4 separate regions of the Homo sapiens genome follow, and all the other regions are linked to region 4. The links come from fine-mapping of genetic effects on gene expression. A gene starts in region 4. Each other region holds a variant in brackets. All regions are shown on one strand. Distances are between the middles of the regions.

Region 1 (6,412 bases), 95 kb after region 4:
TCAAGCAATCAATCCTCCCACCTTGGCCTCCAAAAACATTGAAATTACAGTTGTAAGTCATTGTGCCTGCCTTTTCTCATCTTCTTACTGGGTTGCCCATCTTTTCTTTGTTAAAGTTCTTCTTACAGTATAGTAAATATCACAAATATTACACTTAAAATTTAGCATTTTGGCCGGGTGCGGTGGCTCACATCTGTAATCCCTGCACTTTGGGAGGCCAAGGAGGGAGGATCACGAGATCAGGAGATCGAGACTATCTTGGCTAACACGGTGAAACCCTGTCTCTACTAAAAATACCAAAAGAAAAAGTTAGCTGGGCGTGGTGGTGGGCGCCTGTAGTCCCAGCTACTCGGAAGGCTGAGGCAGGAGAATGGCATGAACCCGGGAGGTGGAGCTTGCAGTGAACCGAGATTGCACCACTGCACTCCAGCCTGGGCGACAGAGGGAGACTGTCTCAAAAAAAAAATCTTTTTTGCATTTAATATTTGTAATGGTATCTAAAGTGCTCCTGTACCCCAAATCTGCCAAGCAGTTGTGTTTTTTTGAGACAGAGTTTTGCTCTTGTTGCCCATGCGGGGATTACAGGCATAAGCTACCGTGCCCGGCCTAGTAGTAGTTTCTTAAGAACTGTGTTCAGACTGGAAGGCACTGTGGCAAAGCCACTGCCATCTCATATCTGGATTTCTGGTCTCTGCCTCAGTTTGGCTTAGTCTGGCCCATTCTCCACACTACCTAGAGTAACCTTTCTTTCTAGGAGATCTCCATGGGTCCCTGCTGGGAAACCTTCCTTGATTCCCCATTGTATTAGTTTCCTGTTGCTGCTGTTGCAAATTGCCACAAACTGAATGACTTAAAACAACACACATTTATTATCTTACAGTTCTGGAGGTCATAAGCCTAAAACCAATCTCACTAGGCTAAAATCCAGGTTCTGGCAGGGCTGGTTCCTTCCTGGAGGCTGTAGAGGAAAAGCCATTTCTTTGCCTTTTCCAACTTCTAGAGGCCACCTGCGTTCCTTGGCTCATGGCCCCCTTCTTCCATCTTCAAAGACAACAATTGTATCACTCTGACCTCTACTTCTGTTGTCACATCTCCTTCTCTGACTCTGTTCCTCCTGCCACCTTGTTATACCTATAATCATAATAATCTTTGTGATTTGATTGGGCCAACCCAGATAATCTAGGATAATCTCCCCATCCCAAAGTCCTTAACTTAATTACACCTGCAATGTTCCTTTTGACATGCAAGATAACATAGACACAGGTTCCAAAAACTAGGACGTGGACATCACTGGGGAACTGCCATTCTGCCAATCACACCCATGGCCTTCAGGATGAAGTCCAGAGTCCTTAACTTGGCTTGCCAGCCTCTCAGAGGCATGCCCACTACTTCTCTGTGTAACCTCATTCCACTCTCCCCTTCAAACTCCCTGCTCCAGGTACGTTTCTGGAACTTGCCCTCCCTGCCTTCTCCAGTCCTGGTCCAGGCTGGTTCCTTGTCTGGAAAACCTCTCCCCACCTCTTCACTTGACTAATCCCTACTCGCTTCCAGCCATGGCCTAACTTTCAGTTTCTCTGGAAGCTTTTGACAACCTCTTCTACTCCCTGCAAGTTCCTCCAGATTTCCTTCAGGGGTCTCAGGACTTCCTCCAATGTTCCTGGTCTGCTTATATTGCCTTTTTTTTTTTTTTTTTTTTTTGAGATGGAGTCTCGCTCTGTTTCCCAGGCTGGAGTGCAGTGGCACGATCTTGGCTCACTGCAAGCTCTGCCTCCAAGGTTCAAGTGATTCTCCTGCCTCAGCTTCCCTAGTAGCTGGGATTACAGGAGCCTGCCACCATGCCTGGCTGATTTTTGTATTTTTAGTAGAGACGGAGTTTCACCATGTTGGCCCGGCTGGTCTTGAATTCCCAACCTCAGGCGATCCGCCCGCCTCGGCCTCCCAAAGTGTTGGGATTACAGGCAAGAGCCACCGCACCCGACCTATGTTGCCTTTTATATGATTGCTTGATTATACTCTCTTCCAAAATATAAGCTCTTTGAGGGCAGAGACAGCAAGGGCAGCTTCATGCTTGGCACTCATTAAGTTTTTGCTGAATAAATTCTATTAAAAAATTAATTTCATAATACAATCAAATTATTTTACTCTATGGGTTTCATCTTAAATGTTATCATTCATTTAACAAATATTTACTAAGCACCAACTTGGTAAGTACTGAGCCAAGCCAGTTACAATTAAGAAGAAATCGCCTGATGATTCTGAGGATGCTAAGGTTGTAGAGGTGTAATCATAAGGACATGAAAAACAATTCTTCCCCTCTAGGAAATTGGACTTGGAGGTCAGCGAACCAATAGACTTTGGTTCTGGAGGTCATCAACATCTGATTCAGGAAGCAGCAGATAAAAGCATCCAGTCCCAATCTGGTGAGCGCTACACACCTTCATCTTCAGCTGGGCCACAAGAAACTCGGAAGAAGCCACGGCCAAAGGACACCGAGCAGTTGAATACCTGTGTGATAGAAATTTCAGATGACGTCACCCCAGGTGATAACAATGCAACTTTAGGCAATCCTTTCTCAGACGCATCTGTCCGCAGAGGTGAGAATAAAGAAATTACCTTTTTAGAAGAGAAGAGCATATGTTCTCTTAAAATGTTTCCACAGAGAAGATTGTCAGATATAATTTTTTTTTTAGTTTTTCTGAGTCATGCTTTCTCATAAAATATGATGTAGGACTGCTATAACTGACTGCTTCCAAGTTGTCCAGGGCATTCAGAAACTCATAAGAAACGTATGGTGAATAACTTTTTTTTTTAAGGAAATATGAATTAATCATGGATCATAAAATGTTTTTACTTGTATACAAGGTGATACCACAATATTGGCTTAAGTTTTAAAGTGTCCACTCTGCCACCCTGAGGCCTTCTGAGGGCCTGAACAACTTGCAGGTGGACTGTGAGCTTTGAATCCTATTGGTCTCCCTGTGGCCCTCACCACTCCTTTCCTGTGGCTGGAAAGCTGCCTTTTGAAGCTCTAGCCTTTGAGGTAGGAGAAGGAAAAGGCAAACAGCCAAAGGCAAAGTAGAGCCAAGAGAGGGCTGCAGGTATCCTGAGAGTTGACCAAACCAGTCTTCTTTTCAGAGGCATTTCTAGAAACCACACCCAGAGTTTTGAATGCCATGTCATTGACCCACCTGTATCACATGGCCACCTCTATTTGGAGTTGTTCAGCTGAGCCCATTGCCACCCTTAACAAGATCTGGGTCAAATAGTGAGGAAGCCAGGGATATTGGATATCACTAAGCACCTGGCTGTCTCTGAGATCAATATCAGGCCTACACAGGGTGTTGTGCAAGGGCAATGCTATTGCGTTTCGTCCTTACAACAACCCTACAAATACAGAAGTTGTATTGCCATTTTACAGGTGAGAAAATGAGGCTTAAGGAGTCTAATCGAATTAGTCTTTCAGGTCTAATTGAAAAATATGTAGAGCCTCCTTGCCAGTGTAAGAGTCAGTTGTTTATATCTGCCTCTCCTGGAGGGCAGAGGCTGGCCTTTGTCCAATTAAAAAAAATATAGTATATGAAAATATGAAAGTGTTGTGGAGAAAAGGAAAAGTATAGCAGGGTAATGGATTGAGTTATGGGGGCTGTAATTTTTTAAAGCAGTATTATGGAGATATAATTTGCAAATCATAAAAATCCCTTTTCAGTGTACAATTCACTGGTATTTTGTGTATTTAGAGTTGATAACCATCAACATGATCAATTTTCGAACATTTTCGTCACCTCAAACAGAAACCCATACCCAGACTAGGCGCAGTGGCTCATGCCTGTAATCCCAGAACTTTGGGAGTTCGAGGCAGGCAGATCACTTGAGGTCAGGAGTTCAAAACCAACCTGGGCAGCATGGTGAAACACCATCTTTACTAAAGGAAAAAAAAAAAAAGAAAAGAAACCCATACCCATTGGCAGTTACTCCCATCATCCCTCCCCCAAACCCCTGCCAACTACTAATCTACTTTCAGACCTCTCTATGAATCTATTTTGAACATTTCATGTAAATGGAATCATACAACATGTGGTCTTTTGTGATTTCCTTCTTTCACTTAATGTTTTTGAGGTTCTCCCATGTTGTAGCACGTGTCAGTATTTCATTCCTTTTATGAATGAGCCGTATACAATTCCATTGCCTGAATAGAAAACATTTGTTTATACATTTATCAGTTGACAGACAATTAGATTGTTTCTACCTTTAGGTTATTTTGAATAATGCTGCAATCAACATTCATA[T/C]TGAAGTTTTTGTGTAGACATATGTTTTCATTTCTCTTGGGTAGATACCCAGGAATTGCTGAACCATAGGGTAACTCTGTGTTTCACATTTTGATGAACTGCCAAACTTTTCCAAAGTGGCTGCACCATTTTACATTCCAAGCAGCAATGTATGAGGGCTCCTGTTTCTCTGCATCCTTGTCAACACTTGTTATTGTCTGTCTTTTTGGTTATAGCCATTCTAGTGTTCGTGAAGTGTTATCTCATTGTACTTTTGACTTGCATTTCATTAGCGAATTTTCTCTTATACTTATTGGTCATTCATATGTCTTCTTTGGAGGAATGTCTATTCAAATCCTTTGCCCACTTAAAGAAAGCAGCAACCATTTTATTATCTCTCATAATTCTGTGGGTTGACTCAGTTGGTCAACTCTTGTGCTGCTCTTGAATTGGGAGCTCTCATTCACTTACAATGAGATGGTAGCTGAGGCTGCTATGGCCATTATGACTGCATGTTATGGCTTGCAGTTGGTGTTAGTTGGGGATCCAAATTCATCCTTTTGTAGGTGTATATCCAGTCTTCCCAGCACCATTTGTCAAAACGATTATTCTTTCTTCATTGAATTTTCCTGGCACATTTGTTAAAAATCAATTGACCGTAAATATAAAGGTTTGTTTCTGGACTGTCACTTTGATTCCATTGATCTCTGTGTCTGTTCTTGTGAGCCTGGGCCACATTTAATATTTGTTCCCCCACAGTCCCTGCTACATAGCAGATGCCAAATTAATGTGAGCTAAATGAATATTTTAATGTAGGCAGCATACACTTGGTAATATATGTTCTGGTATTTTTATTAAGACAGTTTAGACCCACTGCTTTGTAGTCATACTTCCCTATGCATAGAAACTTCCCAGCAAAAGGACAGTCGACGATCCTGTAAGTTAATTTTAAGCAGCATTACTTCTTTTTTTTCTTTGAAATTGGGATAAAGCCACACAAAAGGCAAATTGCCATTGCCAGTGCCATATTCAGAGGGCCCAGGACATAAGCAGAAAGAGGTGCCCACGTGCTGTGCCTTGTATGTTGGCCTGTCATTCTCTTGGAACTCTTTGGTCTCATGTACAGTTCGCCAAGTTATCTATTTCTGCATCAGAATGCAGAAGAGAAGAGAGTTTCTACAGGCGGGTAGGCTGGAGAGAAAAGTGGCAGAAAAGCTCTACAAACCCTCTGCAGCCCAAGTCCATCTCCAGGGAGACGCCCCCCCGTCTCCCACAGTCCTGAGGTGCTGCTGCTCTCCGATGCAGGGAGGTAGTGTCGCTGGATCCCTAATGATGGGCCTGTGACATGGTGAGGATTTCAAATCATGTTTGATCCTAAGGAGGATGGGATGTGCATGACAAGGAATTAAATTCCTGAGTTTGTCTTGAAAATTCTGGGCTTTGGCCAGGCATGGTGGCTCATGCCTACAATCCCAGCATTTTGGGAGGCTGAGGCAGGTGGATCACCTGAGATCAGGAGTTTGAGACCAGCCTGGGCAACATGGTGAAACCCCATCTTTACTTAAAAAAAAAAAAAATTAGCTAGGAGTGGTGGTAATCTTAGCTATTCAGGAGGCTGAGGCATGAGAATCGCTTGAACCCAGGAGGTAGAGGTTGCAGTGAGCTGAAATTGTGTCGTCACTCCACTCAGTCTGGGCAACACGGTGAGACTCTGTTCCAAAAAAAAAAAAAAAAAAAAGAAAGAAAGAAAAAAAAGAAAAAAGAGAAAATTCTGGAGCTCCCATGAATAAACCATCAGATCCCCAATAAAACACCTCTATCCAACCATCTGGATTGAGTGTGCTCTAAAAGTTCTATAGAGCTGCATTTTTGTTGTTATTCTATTTGCTGACTGTAAACTAGCACTGCCTTTCCCATCCTGAAAAAAGAGCAAAAAAAAAAAAATTCCTTTCATTAAATATCAAAAATACGTCATTACATTTATGTTGTTACTTTTGACTATTGTGTCATAAAAATAGTGTTTCTGTCTCCTCAGCTTTCATTATCAAAGTGTTCTTCCTCCTGTCAGTTCAGTTGTTGCTCACTGTGGTAATTACCAGTGTGTTTATTTTCTGGTAAGTCTTTATGACTGATGTAGAATTAAGTGT
Region 2 (8,126 bases), 80 kb before region 4:
CAGTGGGTTGGAGCCTCCCACTTTGTCCCTCCTTTGAAGTGGATGGGAACTCAAGGTGCAAAGAACCTGTTTTGGAAGAAAGCTTGGGGCCATTTCAGCCCCCTGTATTCTCATGATTTTCTCTCAGGAAGCACACACTGTGAATGGCAGACTTTTCATTTAGCCCCAGGTGACTTACTAAAAATAGTTGAAAATTATTCACCTAAGAATAGAATCTCAGCATTGTGTTAAATAAAAATGAAAGCTTTAGAAGGCATGAGATGTTCCTATCTTAAATAAAGCATGTTTCTTTTCTATAGAGAAATGTATAGTTTGACTCTCCAGAATGTACTATCCATCTTGATGAGAAAACTCTTAAATAGTACCAAACATTTTGAACTTTAAATTATGTATTTAAAGTGAGTGTTTAAGAAACTGTAGCTGCTTCTTTTACAAGTGGTGCCTATTAAAGTCAGTAATGGCCATTATTGTTCCATTGTGGAAATTAAATTATGTAAGCTTCCTAATATCATAAACATATTAAAATTCTTCTAAAATATTGCTTTTCTTTTAAGTGACAATTTGACTATTCTTATGATAAGCACATGAGAGTGTCTTACATTTTCCAAAAGCAGGCTTTAATTGCATAGTTGAGTCTAGGAAAAAATAATGTTAAAAGTGAATATGCCACCATAATTACTTAATTATGTTAGTATAGAAACTACAGAATATTTACCCTGGAAAGAAAATATTGGAATGTTATTATAAACTCTTAGATATTTATATAATTCAAAAGAATGCATGTTTCACATTGTGACAGATAAAGATGTATGATTTCTAAGGCTTTAAAAATTATTCATAAAACAGTGGGCAATAGATAAAGGAAATTCTGGAGAAAATGAAGGTATTTAAAGGGTAGTTTCAAAGCTATATATATTTTGAAGGATATATTCTTTATGAACAAATATATTGTAAAAATTTATACTAAGGTCATCTGGTAACTGTGGGATTAATATGGTCGAAAACAAATGTTATGGAGAAGCTGTCCCAAGCAAACTAAATTACCTGTACTTTTTTCCCATTTCAAGGGAAGAGGCAACCACATGAAGCAATACTTCTTACACATGCCTAAGAACGTTCATTGAAAAAATAAATTTTTAAAAGGCATGTGTTTCCTATGCCACCAATACTTTTGAAAAATTGTGAACCTTACCCAAAACCATTTATCATGTCCATTAAGTATATTTGGGTATATAATTAGGAAGATATTTACATGTTCCATCTCCACAGTGGAAAAACTTATTGAGGCTACCAAAGTGTGCCAAGAAATGTAAGTCCTTAGAGTAATTAGAAATGCTGTTTTCCTCAAAAGCATGAGAAACTAGCATTTTCATTTCTTATTTACTCCCTTTCTATATCAATGCAATTCACAACCCAATTTTAATACATCCCTATATCTCAAGCATTTCTATCTTGTACTTTTTCAGAAAATAAACCAAAAATAATCCTTTGGTCTCTCTATCTTCTGACCTTTGTAAGCAACAGAAATGTAAAAACAGAAGGGGTCCAATTTTTACACGTTTTTTTCTCAAGTAGCCTTTCTGGGGATTTTTATTTTCTTAATGAAGTGCCAATCAGCTTTTCAAAATGTTTTCTATTTCTCAGCATTTCCAGGAAGTGATAACGTTTAGCTAAATGAGTAGAAGTGGACTTCCTTCAACATATTGTTACCTTGTCTAGCCTTAGGAAGAAAACAAGAGCCACCTGAAAATAAATACAGGCTCTTTTCGAGCATCTGCTGAAATACTGTTACAGCAATTTGAAGTTGATGTGGTAGGAAAGGAAGGTGACTTTTCTTGCAAAAGTCTTTCTAAACATTCACACTGTCCTAAGAGATGAGCTTTCTTGTTTTATTCCGGTATATTCCACAAGGTGGCACTTTTAGAGAAAAACAAATCTGATGAAGACTAAAGAGGTACTTCTAAAAGAGATTTCATTCTAACTTTATTTTTCTGCGCATATTTAACTCTTTCCTAGCACTTGTTTTTTGGGATGATTAATAGTCTCTATAATGTTCTGTAACTTCAATATTTTACTTGTTACCTAGGTTCTGAACAATTGTCTGCAAATAAATTGTTCTTAAGGATGGATAATACACCCATTTTGATCATTTAAGTAAAGAAAGCCTAGTCATTCATTCAGTCAAGAAAAAATTTTTGAAGTACCCAGTTACCTTACTTTTCTAGATTAAAACAGGCTTAGTTACTAAAAAGGCAGTCCTCATCTGTGAACAGGATAGTTTCGTTAGAAGTATAAAACTCCTTTAGTGGCCCCAGTTAAAACACACATACCCTCTCTGCTGCTTTCAAATTCCCTAGCATGGTGGCCTTTCAACATTGATTAAATTTTAAAATCCTAATTTAAAGATCAGGTGAGCAAAATGAGTAGCACATCAGTAATTCAGTAGACAAAACTTTTGTCTGAAAAATTGCTGTATTGAAACAGAGCCCTAAAATACCAAAAGACCAGGTAATTTTAACATTTGTGGAATCACAAATGTAAATTCATAAGAAGCTCTAATTAAAAAAAAAAAGTCTGAAGTATATGAGCATAACAACTTAGGAGTGTGTCTACATACTTAACTTTTGAAGTTTTTTGGCAACTTTATATACTTTTTTTAAATTTACAAGTCTACTTAAAGACTTCTTATACCCCAAATGATTAAGTTAATTTTAGAGGTCACCTTTCTCACAGCAGTGTCACTTGAAATTTAGTAGGGAAGGATATTGCAGTATTTTTCAGTTTCCTTAGCACAGCACCACAGAAAGCAGCTTATTCCTTTTGAGTGGCAGACACTCGACGGTGCCTGCCCAACTTTCCTCCTGAGTGGCAAGCAGATGAGTCTCAGTAATTCATACTGAACCAAAATGCCACATACACTAGGGGCAGTCAGAAACTGGCTGAGAAATCCCCCGCCTCATTCGCCCCTCTGCTCCCAGGAACTAGAGTCCAGTTAAAGCCCCTATGCGAAAGGCCGAATTCCACCCCAGGGTTTGTTATAACAGTGGCCAGTCTGAACCCCATTTGCTCGTGCTCAAAACTTGATTCCCACTTGAAAGCCTTCCGGGCGCGCTGCCTCGTTGCCCCGCCCCTTTGGCAGGAGAGAGGCAGTGGGCGAGGCCGGGCTGGGGCCCCGCCTCCCACTCACCTGCCGGTGCCTGAAATTATGTGCGGCCCCGCGGGCTGCTTTCCGAGGTCAGAGTGCCCTGCTGCTGTCTCAGAGGCATCTGTTCTGCAAATCTTAGGAAGAAAAATGTCCCTAGTAGCAAACGGGTGTCTTCTGTGCATAAATAAGTACAACACAATTCTCCGAAAGTTCGGGTAAAAAGAGATGCGGTAGCAGCTGCCCTGTGTGAAGCTGTCTACCCCGCATCTCTCAGGCGCTAAGCTCAGTTTTTGTTTTTGTTTTTGTTTTTTTAAAGAAAAGATGTATAATTGCAGGAATTTTTTTTTATTTTTTTATTTTCCATCATTCTATATATGTGATGGTGAAAGATATGCCTGGAAAAGTTTTGTTTTGAAAAGTTTATTTTCTGCTTCGTCTTCAGTTGGCAAAAGCTCTCAATTCTTTAGCTTCCAGTTTCTTTTCTCTCTTTTTCTTTGTTAGGTAATTAAAGGTATGTAAACAAATTATCTCATGTAGCAGGGGATTTTCATGTTGAGAGGAATCTTCCGTGTGAGTTGTTTGGTCACACAAATAACCCTTTCTCAATTTTAGGAGTTTGGATTGTCAAATGTAGGTTTTTCTCAAAGGGGGCATATAACTACATATTGACTGCCAAGAACTATGACTGTAGCACTAATCAGCACACATAGAGCCACACAATTATTTAATTTCTAACTCTCTGTGGTCCCTAGAAAAATTCCGTTGATGTGCTTAGGTTAAAGTTCTGAAGATACCCGTTGTACCCTTACTTGAAAGTTTCTAATCTTAAGTTTTATGAAATGCAATAATATGTATCAGCTAGCAATATTTCTGTGATCACCAACAACTCTCAGTTTGATCTTAAAGTCTGAATAATAAAACAAATCCCAGCAGTAATACATTTCTTAAACCTCACAGTGCATGATATATCTTTTCATTCTGATCCTGTGTTTGCAAAAATATACACATGTATATCATAGTTCCTCACTTTTTATTCATTTGTTTTCCTATTACCTGTAGTAAATATATTAGTTAGTACATGGAATTTATAGCATCAGCTACCCCCAGGAACAGCACCTGACAGGCGGGGGATTTTTTTTCAAGTTGTTCTACATTTGCATAAATTATTTCTATTATTATTCATGTATGTTATTTATTTCTGAATCACACTAGTCCTGTGAAAGTACAACTGAAGGCAGAAAGTGTTAGGATTTTGCATCTAATGTTCATTATCATGGTATTGATGGACCTAAGAAAATAAAAATTAGACTAAGCCCCCAAATAAGCTGCATGCATTTGTAACATGATTAGTAGATTTGAATATATAGATGTAGTATTTTGGGTATCTAGGTGTTTTATCATTATGTAAAGGAATTAAAGTAAAGGACTTTGTAGTTGTTTTTATTAAATATGCATATAGTAGAGTGCAAAAATATAGCAAAAATAAAAACTAAAGGTAGAAAAGCATTTTAGATATGCCTTAATTTAGAAACTGTGCCAGGTGGCCCTCGGAATAGATGCCAGGCAGAGACCAGTGCCTGGGTGGTGCCTCCTCTTGTCTGCCCTCATGAAGAAGCTTCCCTCACGTGATGTAGTGCCCTCGTAGGTGTCATGTGGAGTAGTGGGAACAGGCAGTACTGTTGAGAGGAGAGCAGTGTGAGAGTTTTTCTGTAGAAGCAGAACTGTCAGCTTGTGCCTTGAGGCTTCCAGAACGTGTCAGATGGAGAAGTCCAAGTTTCCATGCTTCAGGCAACTTAGCTGTGTACAGAAGCAATCCAGTGTGGTAATAAAAAGCAAG[G/A]ATTGCCTGTATAATTTATTATAAAATAAAAGGGATTTTAACAACCAACAATTCCCAACACCTCAAAAGCTTGTTGCATTTTTTGGTATTTGAGGTTTTTATCTGAAGGTTAAAGGGCAAGTGTTTGGTATAGAAGAGCAGTATGTGTTAAGAAAAGAAAAATATTGGTTCACGTAGAGTGCAAATTAGAACTAGAAAGTTTTATACGATTATCATTTTGAGATGTGTTAAAGTAGGTTTTCACTGTAAAATGTATTAGTGTTTCTGCATTGCCATAGGGCCTGGTTAAAACTTTCTCTTAGGTTTCAGGAAGACTGTCACATACAGTAAGCTTTTTTCCTTCTGACTTATAATAGAAAATGTTTTGAAAGTAAAAAAAAAAAATCTAATTTGGAAATTTGACTTGTTAGTTTCTGTGTTTGAAATCATGGTTCTAGAAATGTAGAAATTGTGTATATCAGATACTCATCTAGGCTGTGTGAACCAGCCCAAGATGACCAACATCCCCACACCTCTACATCTCTGTCCCCTGTATCTCTTCCTTTCTACCACTAAAGTGTTCCCTGCTACCATCCTGGCTTGTCCACATGGTGCTCTCCATCTTCCTCCACATCATGGACCACAGGTGTGCCTGTCTAGGCCTGGCCACCACTCCCAACTTGACCTAGCCACATTCATCTAGAGATGGTTCCTGATGCTGGGCACAGACTGTGCTCATGGCACCCATTAGAAATGCCTCTAGCATCTTTGTATGCATCTTGATTTTTAAACCAAGTCATTGTACAGAGCATTCAGTTTTGGCTGTGGTACCAAGAGAAAAACTAATCAAGAATATAAACCACATTCCAGGCTGCTGTTTTCTCTCCATCTACAGGCCACACTTTTACTGTATTTCTTCATACTTGAAATTCATTCTGCTATTTTCATATCAGGGTACAGACTTATAAGGGTGCATGTTCCTTAAAGGTGCATAATTATTCTTATTCCGTTTGCTTATATTGCTACAGAATGCTCTGTTTTGGTGCTTTGAGTTCTGCAGACCCAAGAAGCAGTGTGGAAATTCACTGCCTGGGACACAGTCTTATAAGAATGTTGGCAGGTGACTTTGTATCAGATGTTGCTTCTCTTTTCTCTGTACACAGATTGAGAGTTACCACAGTGGCCTGTCGGGTCCACCCTGTGGGTGCAGCACAGCTCTCTGAAAGCAAGAACCTTCCTACCTATTCTAACGTTTTTGCCCTCTAAGAAAAATGGCCTCAGGTATGGTATAGACATAGCAAGAGGGGAAGGGCTGTCTCACTCTAGCAACCATCCCTCCATTACACACAGAAAGCCCTCTTGAAGCAAAAGAAGAAGAAAGAAAGAAAGCTTATCTCTAAGGCTACTGTCTTCAGAATGCTCTGAGCTGAATGCTCTTGCTCCTTTCCCAAGAGGCAGATGAAAATATAGCCAGTTTATCTATACCCTTCCTATCTGAGGAGGAGAATAGAAAAGTAGGGTAAATATGTAACGTAAAATATGTCATTCAAGGACCACCAAAACTTTAAGTACCCTATCATTAAAAATCTGGTTTTAAAAGTAGCTCAAGTAAGGGATGCTTTGTGACCCAGGGTTTCTGAAGTCAGATAGCCATTCTTACCTGCCCCTTACTCTGACTTATTGGGAAAGGGAGAACTGCAGTGGTGTTTCTGTTGCAGTGGCAAAGGTAACATGTCAGAAAATTCAGAGGGTTGCATACCAATAATCCTTTGGAAACTGGATGTCTTACTGGGTGCTAGAATGAAAATGTAGGTATTTATTGTCAGATGATGAAGTTCATTGTTTTTTTCAAAATTGGTGTTGAAATATCACTGTCCAATGTGTTCACTTATGTGAAAGCTAAATTGAATGAGGCAAAAAGAGCAAATAGTTTGTATATTTGTAATACCTTTTGTATTTCTTACAATAAAAATATTGGTAGCAAATAAAAATAATAAAAACAATAACTTTAAACTGCTTTCTGGAGATGAATTACTCTCCTGGCTATTTTCTTTTTTACTTTAATGTAAAATGAGTATAACTGTAGTGAGTAAAATTCATTAAATTCCAAGTTTTAGCAGAATGTGTTTTTTTTCTTTCTTTTTTTTTTTTTTTTTTTTTTTTTGGTGCTTCTTATTTGCAACCTGGCCATGTGGTAGAAAGAATGTGTTTTAAAGTTTTACTTTAAGAGATTCCTTTTCAGGCTTCTAGTGTTTAAAAAGTAAATAACAGCTAAGTGAGCTTAGAACTCATTCAACAATTGGCCGGGCACGGTGGCTCATGCCTTTAATCCCAGTACTTTGGGAGGCCGAGGCAGGCAGATCACCAGAGGTCAGGAGTTCAAGACCAGGCTGGCCAACGTGGTGAAACCCTGTGTCTACTAAAAATACATGAAAACTAGCCGGGCATGGTGGCACGCGCCTGTAATCCCAGCTACTCAGGAGACTGAGGCAGGAGAATCACTTGAACCTGGGAAGTGGAGGTTGCAGTGACCTAAGATGGCGCCACTGCACTCCTGCCTAAGCAACAGAGCAAGACTCCATCTCAAAAAAAAAAAAGAACTCATTCAACAATCATGCGTTGCTTAATGACTGAGATACAGTCTGAGAGATGCATTGTTAGGGGATTTCATCGTTGTGAGAACATCATAGAGTGTACTTACACAAATACACACCTAGACTAGATGGTGTAGCCTAAGCCTCCTAGGCTACAAACCTGTATAGTATTGAATACCGTAGGCAATTGTAACACATTGTTAAGTATTTGTGTATCTAAACATAGAAAAGGTACAGTCAAAATATGGTATAAAAGATAAAAAATGGTACACCTGCAAAGGGCACTTACACTGAATGGAGCTTTCAGGACTGGAAGTTTCTCAGGATAAGTCAGTGAGTGGTGAGTGAATGTGAAGGCCTAGGACATTACACTACTGTAGACTTTACTGTACACTTAGGTCACACTAAATTTATTTTAAATTTTTTCTTTAATAATAAATTAACCTTGGCTTACTGTAAATTTTTTAGTTTATAAACTTTAATTTTTTTAACTTTTTGACTTTTTTTTTTTTTTTTTGAGACAGGGTCTCACTCTGTCACCTACGCTGGAGTACAGTGGCACAATCATGGC
Region 3 (8,126 bases), 43 kb before region 4:
CTGAAATTCAGTTTCAGTTTCATTTAATATACCATGGTACACAATGGTATATACCATATTTTAAAGCTAAAATTCAGTATTAATGTATTTACAGTGTTGTGCAACCACCATCTCACTCTCGTTTCAAAACTTTCATCAGCCCATAAAAACACTCCATATCCATTAAATAATCACCACCACTCCCTCATTCTCTAGTAACCTCTAATGGGTATTCTGACTATGGATTTGCCTATTCTGGATTTATCATATAAAAGCAGTCATACAATATGCGACCTTTTGTGTCTTTCAGCTGGCATAGTATTTTCAAATTTCATCCAAGTTGTAGCATGTATCAGTACTTTGGTTTTTTGTATGGCTAAGTAATATTCCGTGTGTGTGTGTGGCGGATTTCGCCATCCATTCATTTGTTGATGGACATTTGGTTTTGTTTCTACCATTTGGCTATTGTAATGATGCTATGGACATTTATAAACACAAGTTTTTGTATGGATGCATGTTTTCATTTCTCTTGGGTATATGCCTAGGAGTGGTTTACATAACAATTTGCAAATAAAAATTAATTTTAAATTTTTTTTAATTAATTTTAAAAACTAACCAGGCGTGATGGCATATGCCTGTAGTCCTAGCTACTTGGGAGACTGAGCCCACAAGGTCATGCCACTACACTTTATCCTGGGAGAGAGAGTGAGACCCTGCATCTAAATTTAAAAAAAAATAAAATTTAATTTAAAAAGACACTTAAAAAAGAAACTGTAATGACCAATTCCAAGAATTCAAGGATAATTTAATATAATTTGCCATATTAACTGATCAAGGAAAGAAACCATATGATTATTTCAGTAGTTGTCAGAAGGATGTGATATAATTCAGCATTAATTCCTGATTTTCAGAACGATTATAAAATAAGTGGTTACCCTCATATTTAAAAAAAAAAAGTATGTGTGAAATTAAATCTGGTAACATAGAAACATGAAATATTAAAACTGAACTGCAATTTTTAAGTACTTAAAATATTAGATACAGAGTAATATACACACATGTAATCAACAAATATTAATATATTTACCAGTTAGAATTAATAAATGATTTACATTGGCTTCAAGTCTTGTTTTATGTATTAAAAAAAAAAAAGAAGAAAAAAGACTGGGCACAATGGCTTATGCTTATAATCCGAACACTTTGGGAGGCTGAGGCAGGAGGATCACTTAAGGCCAGGAGTTCGAGACCAGCCTGGGCAACATAGTGAGAGGCCATCTCTACACAAAGAAAACAAATTAGCCAGGTGTGGTAGTCCTAGTTTCTCCCGAGACTGAAGTGGGAGGATCACTTAAGCCCAGAAATTGGAGGTTACAGTGAGTTATGATCATGCCAGTGCACTCCAGCTTGGATGACAGAGTAAGACCCCCATCTCTAAAAAAAAAAAAAAAAAAAAGTCCCCAAACTATCATTTTTTCCTTTGATATAGCTGATCCTGAAACTAGTGTATGTCTTTCCTATCCACATTTATATACTTTTATTATATTAGTATGTGTTCATAAATAACAGAATATTGAGTTTCTTTTTTTTTTAATTAGTTATACCTACTGGAATGGGAAGAATACTGTGTATTATCAAAATGGTAACATTGTGTTTCCTTCTGAAACTTGTTTCTTTTCATTCAGCATTACTGTTGACATCTATCCTTACTGATACTTTCAAGTTTGTTTCTTTTGCTTATGGTATTCTACTAATTAATCCACCACAATTATTTCTCCGTTCTCCTTTTTATGAACATCTAGATTGTTTTAATTTTTCAGTAATACAAATAGTGCTGCTGTGGATATTTCTTACCCATTTCTTCTTTTCCACAGTTACTGTTTTTTGTTTTTTTGTTTTCCGAGATGGAGTTTCGCTCTGTTGCCCAGGCTGGAGTGCAGTGGTGCAATCTTGGCTCACTGCAACCTCCACTTCCCGGGTTCAAGCAATTCTCCTGCCTCAGCCTCCTGAATAGCTGGGATTACAGGCATGCGCCACCACGCCCAGCTACTTTTTTGTATTTTCAGTAGAGACAGGGTTTCACCATGTTGGTCAGGCTGTTCTGGAACTCTTGACCACGTGATCCGCCCACCTCAGCCTCCCAAAGTGCTGGGATTACAGGTGTGAGCCACCGCGCCCAGCCAGTTTACTGTTAATTTTCTAAAGGATACTTTGGACTGTAATTTCTAAGTTCTAGGATGTGCATACACATTCAACTTACGAACATTTTGCTTGCCCAAGTGCTTGTTATTTTGCATTCTTGCTAGTGTATAAAAATACCCTTGTTTCACATACTTGTCAACCCAGGGAGATGTCATTATTGCAAATTTAATGTATACAAATGGTTGAGCTTCTTAACCTGCTTATTAGCCATTCATATTTCATTTTCTTTGCATTGCTTTTCATAGTCTTTGCCCATTTTTCTGTTGGAAAGAAACAACATTTTCTGGTCCATGGCGTCTCTTTACTTTGTTTTTGTGTCTATTATAATTATATAAAGGCTTTAATTTTAAGTCACATAATCATTGTTTTTAGCCCCTTTATTATTTAAAATTATTCTGAAAGTGCTGATAATAAAATACTCAATTAGAAAATACAGTGGTAGAAAATATCCTCTTTATAGTAGTAACCAAAAAATCTGCAAGAAAATTTTAAAGAAGTAAACAGTACTTATTTGAAGAAAACTATACAAGTCTATTCAGAGACATATATGAAGATTGAATAAATGGAGAGTCATAACGTGTTCCTGGGTATAACTTGCCGTACTGGATATTAAAACATTATAAGAATGTTTTAATTAACACAGTGCAGTACTAGTACAGGAATAGACAAAACAATGGAACAGTGTAGAGTCCAGGTGAAAATTCGAGAATCTGTGGAATGTAATAATATGATAAAGATGGCATTTCTTGGAACAAAATGACTAATCATTTGGAAAATATAAAGCTGGCCACTACATAAAGCCAAATACATCCCAGACAGCTCAGAGATTTCAATGTATGAAAATGCAACTAGAGAAAGGGTGACTATTACAGTACTGGGGTGGGGAAGGCTTATGCCTCAAAACTCAAACTTTTGACCATATATTTCAAATTCTGAATGGCAAAAACTGATTACAAAAATTAAACTGTGAACAAAGTTTAACTACAATGAACAGACTAAGAAAAACTTCTAAGAATGTATAACACAAAAAACTAATGATCTTTAATAAGGAAAAAAGAATACCACACATACACAGACAAATTGGCAAATATACGTTTAGGCAATTCTAAAAGAAAACACAAACTGTATTCTCTGATACGATTGATAAAGAGCCTGAGAGGGAGGCTTCTTGGTAAAGTGTGATTCATAAATGGATGACAGACAGTTTTGGACATGGTGGGAGAAAAAGATGATCATTTGTGTGAAGGCTACGTTGGTCTTTGATTTAGTCATCGTTATTAAAGAGTTTGCACTCACATACACTTCATTCTATTTCAACTTTGTTTTTAATAGCAAAGAACCCATATTTCTTTCCTCCAGAAGGAGATGGGTTAAGTAAATTCTGGCATTTTAGTGAATGTTAAATGCAGCCATAAATGATGTAGTTGGCATGGAAAGATACTATTGGGTGAGAAGAGCAGGTTCCAGACAGCAGGTATTTATGTAATATTGTAAACATACACTTAGAAAGATGTTTCCAAAAATCTTAATGGTGTTTAATTTCTGATAGTGGGATTTGAGTCCATTTTCTTACAGTTAACATTTAACATTTTGGCCAAAATAACAATGCTGTTTGCAGAAACAAAAGGAAGTCTGCTATAATCTAGCCCATAGAGAGATCATCACTGTTAGTTTATTTTCTGCATTTTTGTTTGTCTTCAAAATTAGACTCACGCTATATAAAAAGTTGTACATTCTGAATTTTTTATGTAAGATTAGGTGGTGAACATTTTTTCCATTGGGTAGTTTTGTTTTTGTTATGAACTACTTCAGATATACAGAACAGTTCCATGAAAAATAATAAAATGATAACCAGCATATCCACTATGCAGCTCGAATAAATCTTAACATTTTGTTACACTTGCTTTGGGTGTTGTCATAATTTTTTTTTATTTCTTCAAATATATATTTAAGCCCCTAAGTACTACTCCCAATCTCAGTCCCCTCTCCTTCTCCAGAGTTACTCACTTTTTCAACATTAAAAATACTTAGAGGTTAAGATTTTTTTAAACACATATTTACATTTAACACTTTGCGCTAAAGGAATTACTACATAGAGATTCTTTTAGATCACTGCAAATAATCACCCATTTATTTTCTTTTCTGCAGTACTAGGCCTGTCTAATCCAATCCTGGGTAGAAAC[A/G]AAAGAATTAGAATACAAAGGAACCAAATCTTACATTATCTGCATATTTCATATGACTGTATAAAGTCTATTCTGTATAATTTAAGAAAATAAGATGGATATTACATCTAAATGGATATGTAGTTATTTCTTTTCAATATATTTAATATTGCTTTAGTGGAATTAAAGACTTAAATCCTGGTAAATGTTACACTTTTTAGACATTCTAAAATAAAAATGGGTAATTATAATAATTAGAAGAATTAAATAGAACTTAGAAACATAAAATGTGTGTGACAAAGTATGTCTGAGTCAAGATAAATGTATTTATTTTTCATAGGATATTAAAGGACTCAGCAAAAAGAGAAAGATGTATTCTGAAGATAAACCTTTATCATCTGAGTCCTTGTCAGAATCAGAGTATATTGAGGAGGTAAGTATATGATCAAATCCATTTTCTCTATTTTAAAATGCTTAGTTATTGATTTAATAAATATGACTTAGAAAAAGAAATACTTCATATTTAATTTATTCACCTTTCTAGTATGAAAAAACAAAATGAAAGTTATTTCATTTCAGAATGAGTTTTGCTTTTTTCCAGAAGATAATTATCTATTATTTTTTATAATTAACTGTATTTCCACATACCTTTCTAATCTGAGATATTTTTAGTCTTCTAATATTTCCTTTTTATTGTGCTACCATTCTTGTTACATGAAAGAAGCTGTGTAACATACAGCATGTTGAAACCAAACATTCTCTTACATTGTTAAAATAGAACATTGCATATACTATCTCAGTTTAGTTGATATTTAGCTGTGTTTTGAGCTACTTTTCGGGGAGTAGAAAGGTGATGAAGTGGAGAAGAAATGTTGGCAGGAAACATATCATATTACTTCGTTGTGAGAACTAAATGAGATGATAAATTACGAAAGGCATTGCATCATACCTGAGACAGAGTAAATGGTGGCTAAAGTTTGCATAATTCTTGGTGTTACAGTAAAATCTAAGCCAAGTTTGCCCTAGAATCATTTATTTTTAAAACTGTAGCTTTCTTTAGCGATCAACATACTTAACCCCCAATAGTGTAATCTAAAAGAGTTGAGGATCTTACCCTTGCTTACAAGGGGTGGTAGCAGATTGCAACAAGAGCTGGTTTTCATGATTCTTTAATCGTTTCCGTATTAGCCTCCTCCTGTATCAGTCCTGCCCAGCTCTATCTCTGTCTACTATATTCCTCATCTCCCCATTCCCTGAGTCTTGCATTTTTGTTTGTTTGTGCCTCTCTCCTTTCTGATTTCATCGTTCTTGGTCTGCAACAGTGGCACTTGGTCCTTTAAGACCTATTGCCCCCATTTTATAGCAATGTCTTGTAATTGCTCCTGAAATGAAAGCTAATGCTGAGGCAAGAAGGTTGCTTGAGCCCTGGAGTTTGAGGCTGCAGTGCACTCTGATCCCACCTGTGAATAGCCACTGCACTCTAGCCCAGGTGACATAGCAAGACCCCATCTCTAAAAAAATAATAATGATAATGTGCAATTTTATGAAATTGTATTTCAGTGTAAATGCCTGAATGTGATTAACACCAGGCCAGGCGCAGTGGCTCGTGCTTATAATCCCAGCACTTTGGGAGGCTGAGGCGGGTGGATCACCTGAGATCAGGAGTTCCAGACCAGCCTGGCCAACATGGTGAAACTCCATCTCTGCTAAAAAAAAAAAAAAAAAAAAAAATTAGCCAGGCGTGGTGGCAGGTGCCTGTAATCCCAGCTACTCGGGAGGCTGAGGCAGGAGAATCACTTGAACCCGGGAGGCGGAGGTTGCAGTGAGCCAAGATTGTGCCATCACACTCCAGCCTGGGCAACAAGAGTGAAACTCCATCTCAATCAATCAGTCAATGCTGTAACACCAGAAGACATAGAATCTTAAGAAAAAACAAAATGCAGGCTGTAGCAGGTGTATATTACATACGCCCTTCAAAAACCATACAGTGGCATTACAGTATATCTTAAAATCCTGCACAAGAGGCTTGGTGCAGTGGCTCAGCCTCTTGTGGCACCTGTAATCTCAGCAATTTGGGAGGCTATGGCAGGAGAATCAGTTCAGACCAGGAGTTACGACCAGCTTGGGCAACATAGCGAAACCCTATCTCTTTAAAAAAATAAAAAAATTTTATTTTTTAAAATTTAGTTTCTGGGCCAGGTGTGGTGGTTCACGCCTGTATCCCAGCACTTTGGGAGGCCAAGGCAGATGGATCACCTGAGGTCGGGAGTTAAAGACCAGCCTGGCCAGCATGGCAAAACCCTGTCTCTACTAAAAATACAAAAATTAGCCAGACATGGTGGCACAGACCCGCAATCCCAGCTACTCAGGAGGCTGAGGCAGGAGAATCGCTTGAACCGGAAAGGCAGAGGCTGCAGTGAGCCGAGATCACACCACTGCACTCCATCCTGGGCAACAGAGCGAGACTTTGTCAAAAAAAAAAAAATTTTAGTTTCTGTATTGTAAACAGATTCATCACATGAATGTTTAGCAGGCTATTCAAAAGTCGTGGAGGATGTACAGGGCTGTTCAGGACATGGCGTGACAGCATCCCTCATCTCTGCCTGGCTAAATATAGATGTAGTACATCTGCTGTCACCCTTAGTCATTGTAATAACAAGAATAACAATAAAAATATTGTTTCCTAGGTGCTCGGTAAAGAGAGCTAGTGAGTTAGTGATCTCTGTTGTGAGCTTGTGATCTCTAGTGCTTAATGTGTTATATTTTTTTTAGTCCTCATGCTTCCTTTTATTGTTAATTGCATTTTTATGTATTTGTCATGTATTTAATGTCGTAGTCACTTAGCAGCAAAACCACGCAATTCAACATTAGGCAAATTTATAAATATTGTTTTGTATGTAATGTATTAGTGTTGTATTATGTTTGTCTGCTACATGGTAGCAAGTTTAATATGAAATATCTCACATTTGGACTTAACATGTAATACGAAAGTTTATGAAAGCTTTGACAACTTTCAGCTTATTTATTCTTATTTTTTTAGAGGCAGGTTCTTGCTCTATCGCCCAGGCTGGAGGGCAATGGTGCAGTCATAGATCACTGCAGCCTGGAACTCCTGGGCTCAAGTGATTTTCCACTTCACCCTTCCAAGTAGCTAGGACTACAGTCACATGCCACCACACCCCACTAATTTTTAACAAAAATTTTTTTGTAGAGGTGAAGTCTTAACTAGGTTACCCAGGCTGGTCTTGAACTCCTGGCCTCAAGCAATTCTCCCACCTTGGCCTATCAAAGCGCTGGGATCACAGGCACCAGCCGCTGCCCCCGGCCTCAGTTTAATTTAAATCCAGTGTACCACACTCAAAAAGATTGAAATAAAATATAAATGGGATGATAATTCTTACTTAGAATTTTAACCTATTGGCTTTATACTAACTACACTGAATATAGAGCTACCATTTGTTGAGCACCATAGAGTGAGAGAAATACCTGCTGTATTTTAGGCACTTCCCCTTGAGGGTGGATATTATCTACATTTTACAGATGTTGAGAGTAAGATAGGATTCAGACCTTGGAATCTATCTCATTTCAGAGCTGATGTTTTGTTTGCCTGTTTTGAGACAAGGTGTCAGTCTGTCGCCCAGGCTGGAGTGCAGTGGTGCAAACAGGGCTCACTGCAGCCTCAACCTCCTGGGCTCAAGTGATCCTCCCATCTCAACCTTCCAGTTAGCTGGGACTACAGGCACATGCCACTGTGCCCAGCTATTTTTTCTTTTTCTTTTTTTTTTT
Region 4 (5,000 bases):
ATGATCTCTGCTCACTGCAATCTCCACCTCCCAGGTTCAAGCAATTCCCATGCCTCAGCCACCTGAGTAGCTGGGACTACAGGTCCGCACCACCACACCCGGCTAATTTTTGTATTTTTAGTAGAGGAGGGGTTTCCATCATGTTGGCCAGGCTTGTCTTGAACCCCTGACCTCAAGTGATCTGCCTGCCTCGGTCTCCCAAAGTGCTGGGATTACAGGCGTGAGTCACCACGCCCAGGCTTCAAACCCAAATTTTTTTTTTTTTTTTTTTTTTGAGGCAGAGCTTCCCTCTTGTTGCCCTGTCTGGAGTGCAATGGCGCAATCTCGGCTCACTGCAACCTCTGCCTCCCGGTTTCAAGCGATTCTCCTGCCTCAGCCTCCCGAGTAGCTGGGATTACAGGCCTGCGCCACTAGACCCAGCTAATTTTGTATTTTTAGTAGAGAGGGGGGTTTCACCATGTTGGCCAGGCTGGTCTCAAACTCCTGACCTCGTGATCCGCCCACCTCGGTCTCCCAGAGTGCTGGGATTGCAGGCGTGAGCCACCGTGCCTGGCCAAACCCAACTTCTACTCTACCAAGCTACAGGACATTAAATTGTTAAGCATGGGAATGATGTGATGGATACAGTGTTTCAGTAAAGTTAACTTTTAAAAAGGCTGGAGGAAGATATGCTAGATTACGTTTTGGGGTAATTCAGTTATGAATGAGGGAAACTTGGGGCCAAAATGACAGAAATATGAATGGAAGAAATGAGGAAATGAGTCATTTCTTAACTTGCACATTACCTTGCACTTTGTAAGTTCATAAATTTAATAAGATAAACTTCAGTAAAGTCTTCTGCTGGGTATTCATCTAGAGCATTGTACTGTTCAATTGCACCATATAAAGCGAATCGCTCAACTAATTCCTTCATGACTCCCACAGCAGGAACTCCTTGTATTAATAAGTACTGAGATTCCAAATTGATTGTATATACCTGAAAGAAATGCAGAGTTATTAAACGTATTTCGCAAATAAGCCTAGGACGAATCTGCCTCTATTTTTTTTTAAAGAGAACTTTGAAAACAAGAAATAATCTGTTCAACCCAGTCAGCAAAAGAACACAAAATGAAATTTCTGCCATTCCTTCTGCATAAAGAATAACAGTCCATGTGAGAGGCTACCTAAGGCATATAACAGACTACCTTCAGTCGACATTTTTTTCCAGAAATTGAGTCGGTAGAAGTCACTGGGAACAATCACTCAACGAATATTCACTGAGTGCTTACCTGTGCCAAGTAGTACTGTAAACACAGAAGATCCAATGACTAAAACCAAGGCCTATTCTCGTGGAGTTGATGTTCTAATACTTGACCAAAGGCGTCGTGAGAATCTTTGGTAACTGACCGAGGGTTCTTCACGCCAGCTCTAACGAGAGACAGATCTGACGGAAGCCTTGTCGTGCCTTTATTTCCGTAGGCTGGTCATATGGCGCTAGCACTCACATAAAGCTACCGAGGAGAGCGAATGAAACCAAAATCACTTTACCTTCACAGCACGAGGCCGTCGTCCCTCTCGATATTTGGCCCGTGTGTCGCATACCGCCCTCTGGACGTGGTGATCAAATAAACTCCCTAGCTCCCCGCCGCTCGACGCCATCTTGCCTACTTTGATCCTCGCAGGGAGGACAACATCCGCCCTACTGAGCTCCCTTTTATCCAATAAGAGAGCGGGATGAGTTAAGGAGTGCCAGGATTGGCTGGAGAATCGACAGCGTCGGCCATCGTTTCCTGCGTGCGAAGATTTGATGAACGAGGTGCCGCCCCCGAGCGGCTCGGCGGAGAGGCGCGGTGGGTGACAGAAGCTTTCTTGTCCCACCCACTACAGGCTTACGGCAGGATGCGCAGCGGGGAGAGGGGGCGGGGCCGCAGGGGGCGGGGCCGATCGATCTCCTCCGGCTCCGACGTCCTCGGCCTGCCGGGTCCCGGGTCCTTTGCGGCGCTAGGGTGGGCGAACCCAGAGCGACGCTCCGGGACGATGTGGGGCAGCGATCGCCTGGCGGGTGCTGGGGGAGGCGGGGCGGCAGTGACTGTGGCCTTCACCAACGCTCGCGACTGCTTCCTCCACCTGCCGCGGCGTCTCGTGGCCCAGCTGCATCTGCTGCAGGTAACCTGCCGGCCCCGAGCCACCTGATCTTCAGCCTGGGGTCGGACGAGGCCGAAGCCTCTCAGGGACGCGGCGGGACACCGGCTGCCACCCGGGCGCCGCCGAAGCGCGCAGAGATCAGGGTCCCTCGACGGCAGGGCCCTTCTGGGTAGTCTCTGGATCCCACAAGTCCAGTGCAGCCCTGGGCTCGTCTTATCCCAGGTCTTTTCACTTGGTGAAACTGAACCTAGAAACGTCCTAATATTCTACCACTGTTTTTATAAATATTCCTTATTCCAGGCTGGAAAAGCTCCTGAGAAGTGGTTTGTTTTTATTATTTTAAAAGGTGTTTTCCTTGCCAGCCATTTCCAGTTAACCTGCGCTGCTGCCGTCCGGGCCGCGAGAGCGGGACGCAGAGTTGTTGGCGGAGCCCCTGTCGGTTCCCGGGGACTAAGCACCGCGTCCCATGAGCGGGAAAGGTTAATACAATGATGGTTCTGCCCTGCGTCGCTGACGCGGAACACAGCTGTAGTGTGTTAGGAACACATAACGTAGTTAAGATCACTTGAAGCTCTGCGATCAGTCGCCCTTCTGGACGTTGTGGTTAGGATGTTTCACAGTTCTAACCACTGGTGGAGATACAGCGTCCATATTTTCATAATTAAAAATAGAGGCACATGGTCTCACGAGTTTGAGTGTACTTATGGGGGCAAAAGGACGGCGTATTTGAAATCCTCATAAATCCTGGATGCATGGTACCCACCAGTGGCTAATCTATGCAATGAATAGAGTTTGCAATAATTTCAAGCATCCCTTCTTTCCACTTGAGTTACTTCCCCATACCTAGGGGAAGATATTTTTGGTCCACTGAAAACATGAGTTCAGCAGAATCCTCCTATCATCGTCGTTATTATTTTTTACCACTAAGTAGACAATCTTTTGGTTTTTGATGGGCTTTATGGCTAGAGACAAATCAGTCACTGTCACCAAGTTCCAGGTAGAAGTTGGTTCAGTGCTCTGTCAGCTTCGATGGGATTTTTCAACATGTTTTCAAATCTGCACTTAATAGTAGGAATGCTTTCTTACAGTAACTCTAATTTGATCCTAAGATGTAGTTGTTACCTTACATTCATCACTGTTTAAGAATTTAGTGGTCTTGATCTTTGTTTTAAATTTTGAGCCTTCGGGAAGTACTTATAAGAATTAATTCATGCATATCTTTTTGAAATGTAAATGTCTTTAGCCCTGGAACAAATTGCTGTTTCTGTTCAGCCCATATTAGCAGAATAGGTCAACTTTACTTTCTAATTATCAATGTAATAAGTTTATTACTTTATAGATTCCATAAATCTATACATTTATTCCTCGATGAATTATATAAATTTATAGAATTTATGTTTTATAGAAAATTTGGAAAGCATGGAAAATTATTAACAAGAAAATAAGTTACCCATAATCCCAGAACTTAGAGGTGACTAATGTTGACAGTTTGGATCAAATCTTCCAGTTTTGTTTCTAATCTTTATTTTTAACATAAATGAGGTCCTGTATACACACGTACAGTTTTGTGTCCTGGTGTTTTTATTTAATGTTATTATGAGTGTTTTATTTTGTTAAAAGGTCATCATTTTAAGTTGTTAATTAGTATTCTAGCACAAATTTGCCATAATTTATTTAATTGTTTACTATGATTGACCATTTAGATTGTACTTAATTTTTAGGCATTAGAAGTGATAAACTATATTTTAATCAGACGTTGAAAATAACACATCTTTGTTTAGAAAACATCATTTTATTTCTGGTTGTCTAGGATAGATTCCCAGAATTCTTGGGTTAGAGGCCATAGATAATTATGAAAGCAGAAAGATTCACAAGTTGGGAGTTAATACTTGAATTACTTTATTTGGGGTGAAGCATTGAGTGCATAATACAGATCATGCAGTAATGGGAAGAAGGGTTGGAACAATGGTTTTCTGGCCTATGTCAGACTTACCTTGAAGCTTTTAAGAATACAGATGTTCTGATCAACCCTCAGACCTATTAAATCAGACCTAAAATCTTAGGGAATAGGCTTTAGGCATCTCTAATTTTAAAAAATTTATTCAGGCTACTTGGATGCACAAAAGAGTTGAGACCTACTGTCCTAGAATCATAGAATTTTAATGACGATAGAGACCTTAAGCATCTAGGTCGTTTCTGTACTTTTACATGTAAGGAAACTGGCATTCCTAGGCCAGTACCATTGCCATGCAGCTAATTTGCCCTCTTGTCTATAGCTCACTCTGCATCACCCAACCTACCGTTCTCACTGTTTCTTCTATAACCAATCTCCTTCCCACTTCTGTTCTCTTACTCATGCCATTCTTCCCTCAGTCATTTTTCTTCCTTCCATACAAATTCCATGTCTTTAAAAAGGAATAATCCTACCTCCTCCACATAGCTTTCCAATTCTCTGTTGCCCACATTTGTCTCCCTTTCAATACTTCTCTGTTGTGTTATGTGACACATCACATTTGATATACTCTGTACTGTGTTTCAAGTATTGTATTCTCTTGTTTACTCAAGTCATTATTTCAGGACTGACTACCCAGTAGATGCTTTAAGTCAGGATTTCTCAACCTTGGCACTGTTGACATTTTGAGCTGGATAATTTTTTGTTTTGGGGGCTCTCCTGTACATTTTAAGATGTTTAACAGCACCCTTGGCCTCTATCCAGTAGACGCCTGTACTGCCTCCCCCTATCTGTGACAACCAAAAAGGTCTTCAGACATTGTCAGATGTCTACTGAAGGACAAAATCACCTCTGGTTGAGAACCACCGCTTCAACTAAGTTATCTTCTCTGTACTCAGAACTTGATGTGATTGCAGCAGGGGGA

Which allele goes with the higher level. Positions count from the first base shown, and alleles are read on the strand shown. Sizes are in standard deviations (SD) of each study's normalised expression. Not every link is listed here.
For the expression in hypothalamus of the gene that starts at base 1,932 in region 4, C is the high allele of the variant in region 1 and T is the other (large effect, 0.81 SD a copy in GTEx).

Evidence for each region. PIP is the estimated chance that this variant, and not a neighbour inherited with it, causes the effect. A credible set is the group of variants that fine-mapping cannot tell apart.
Region 1: its variant is the best candidate, but not a certain one, in a credible set for the expression of PEX1 in hypothalamus (GTEx, PIP 0.84).
Region 2: its variant is the best candidate, but not a certain one, in a credible set for the expression of PEX1 in whole blood (INTERVAL, PIP 0.67).
Region 3: its variant is the best candidate, but not a certain one, in a credible set for the expression of PEX1 in whole blood (INTERVAL, PIP 0.69).

What each region holds. Positions count from the first base shown.
Region 1 is chr7:92,429,337-92,435,748 of GRCh38, reverse strand. It overlaps the pseudogene TMBIM7P. Among named protein-coding and RNA genes, the nearest start is that of GATAD1, 15 kb to the left of the region's middle. The variant T/C (reference allele first, on the strand shown) is at 4,287.
Region 2 is chr7:92,603,878-92,612,003 of GRCh38, reverse strand. CDK6 (cyclin dependent kinase 6) reads left to right here. Exons shown (of 8, transcript NM_001145306.2): 8 at 1-7,083. Among named protein-coding and RNA genes, the nearest start is that of FAM133B, 18 kb to the right of the region's middle. The variant G/A (reference allele first, on the strand shown) is at 4,983.
Region 3 is chr7:92,566,470-92,574,595 of GRCh38, reverse strand. FAM133B (family with sequence similarity 133 member B) reads left to right here. Exons shown (of 11, transcript NM_152789.4): 9 at 4,681-4,773. Among named protein-coding and RNA genes, the nearest start is that of FAM133B, 20 kb to the left of the region's middle. The variant A/G (reference allele first, on the strand shown) is at 4,362.
Region 4 is chr7:92,525,452-92,530,451 of GRCh38, reverse strand. PEX1 (peroxisomal biogenesis factor 1) reads left to right here and starts at 1,932. Exons shown (of 24, transcript NM_000466.3): 1 at 1,932-2,145. The coding sequence starts at 2,017. RBM48 (RNA binding motif protein 48) reads right to left here and starts at 1,657. Exons shown (of 5, transcript NM_032120.4): 1 at 1,528-1,657; 2 at 786-976. The coding sequence starts at 1,638. RefSeq lists enhancers at 1,354-1,733, 2,334-2,513 and a silencer at 1,874-2,103.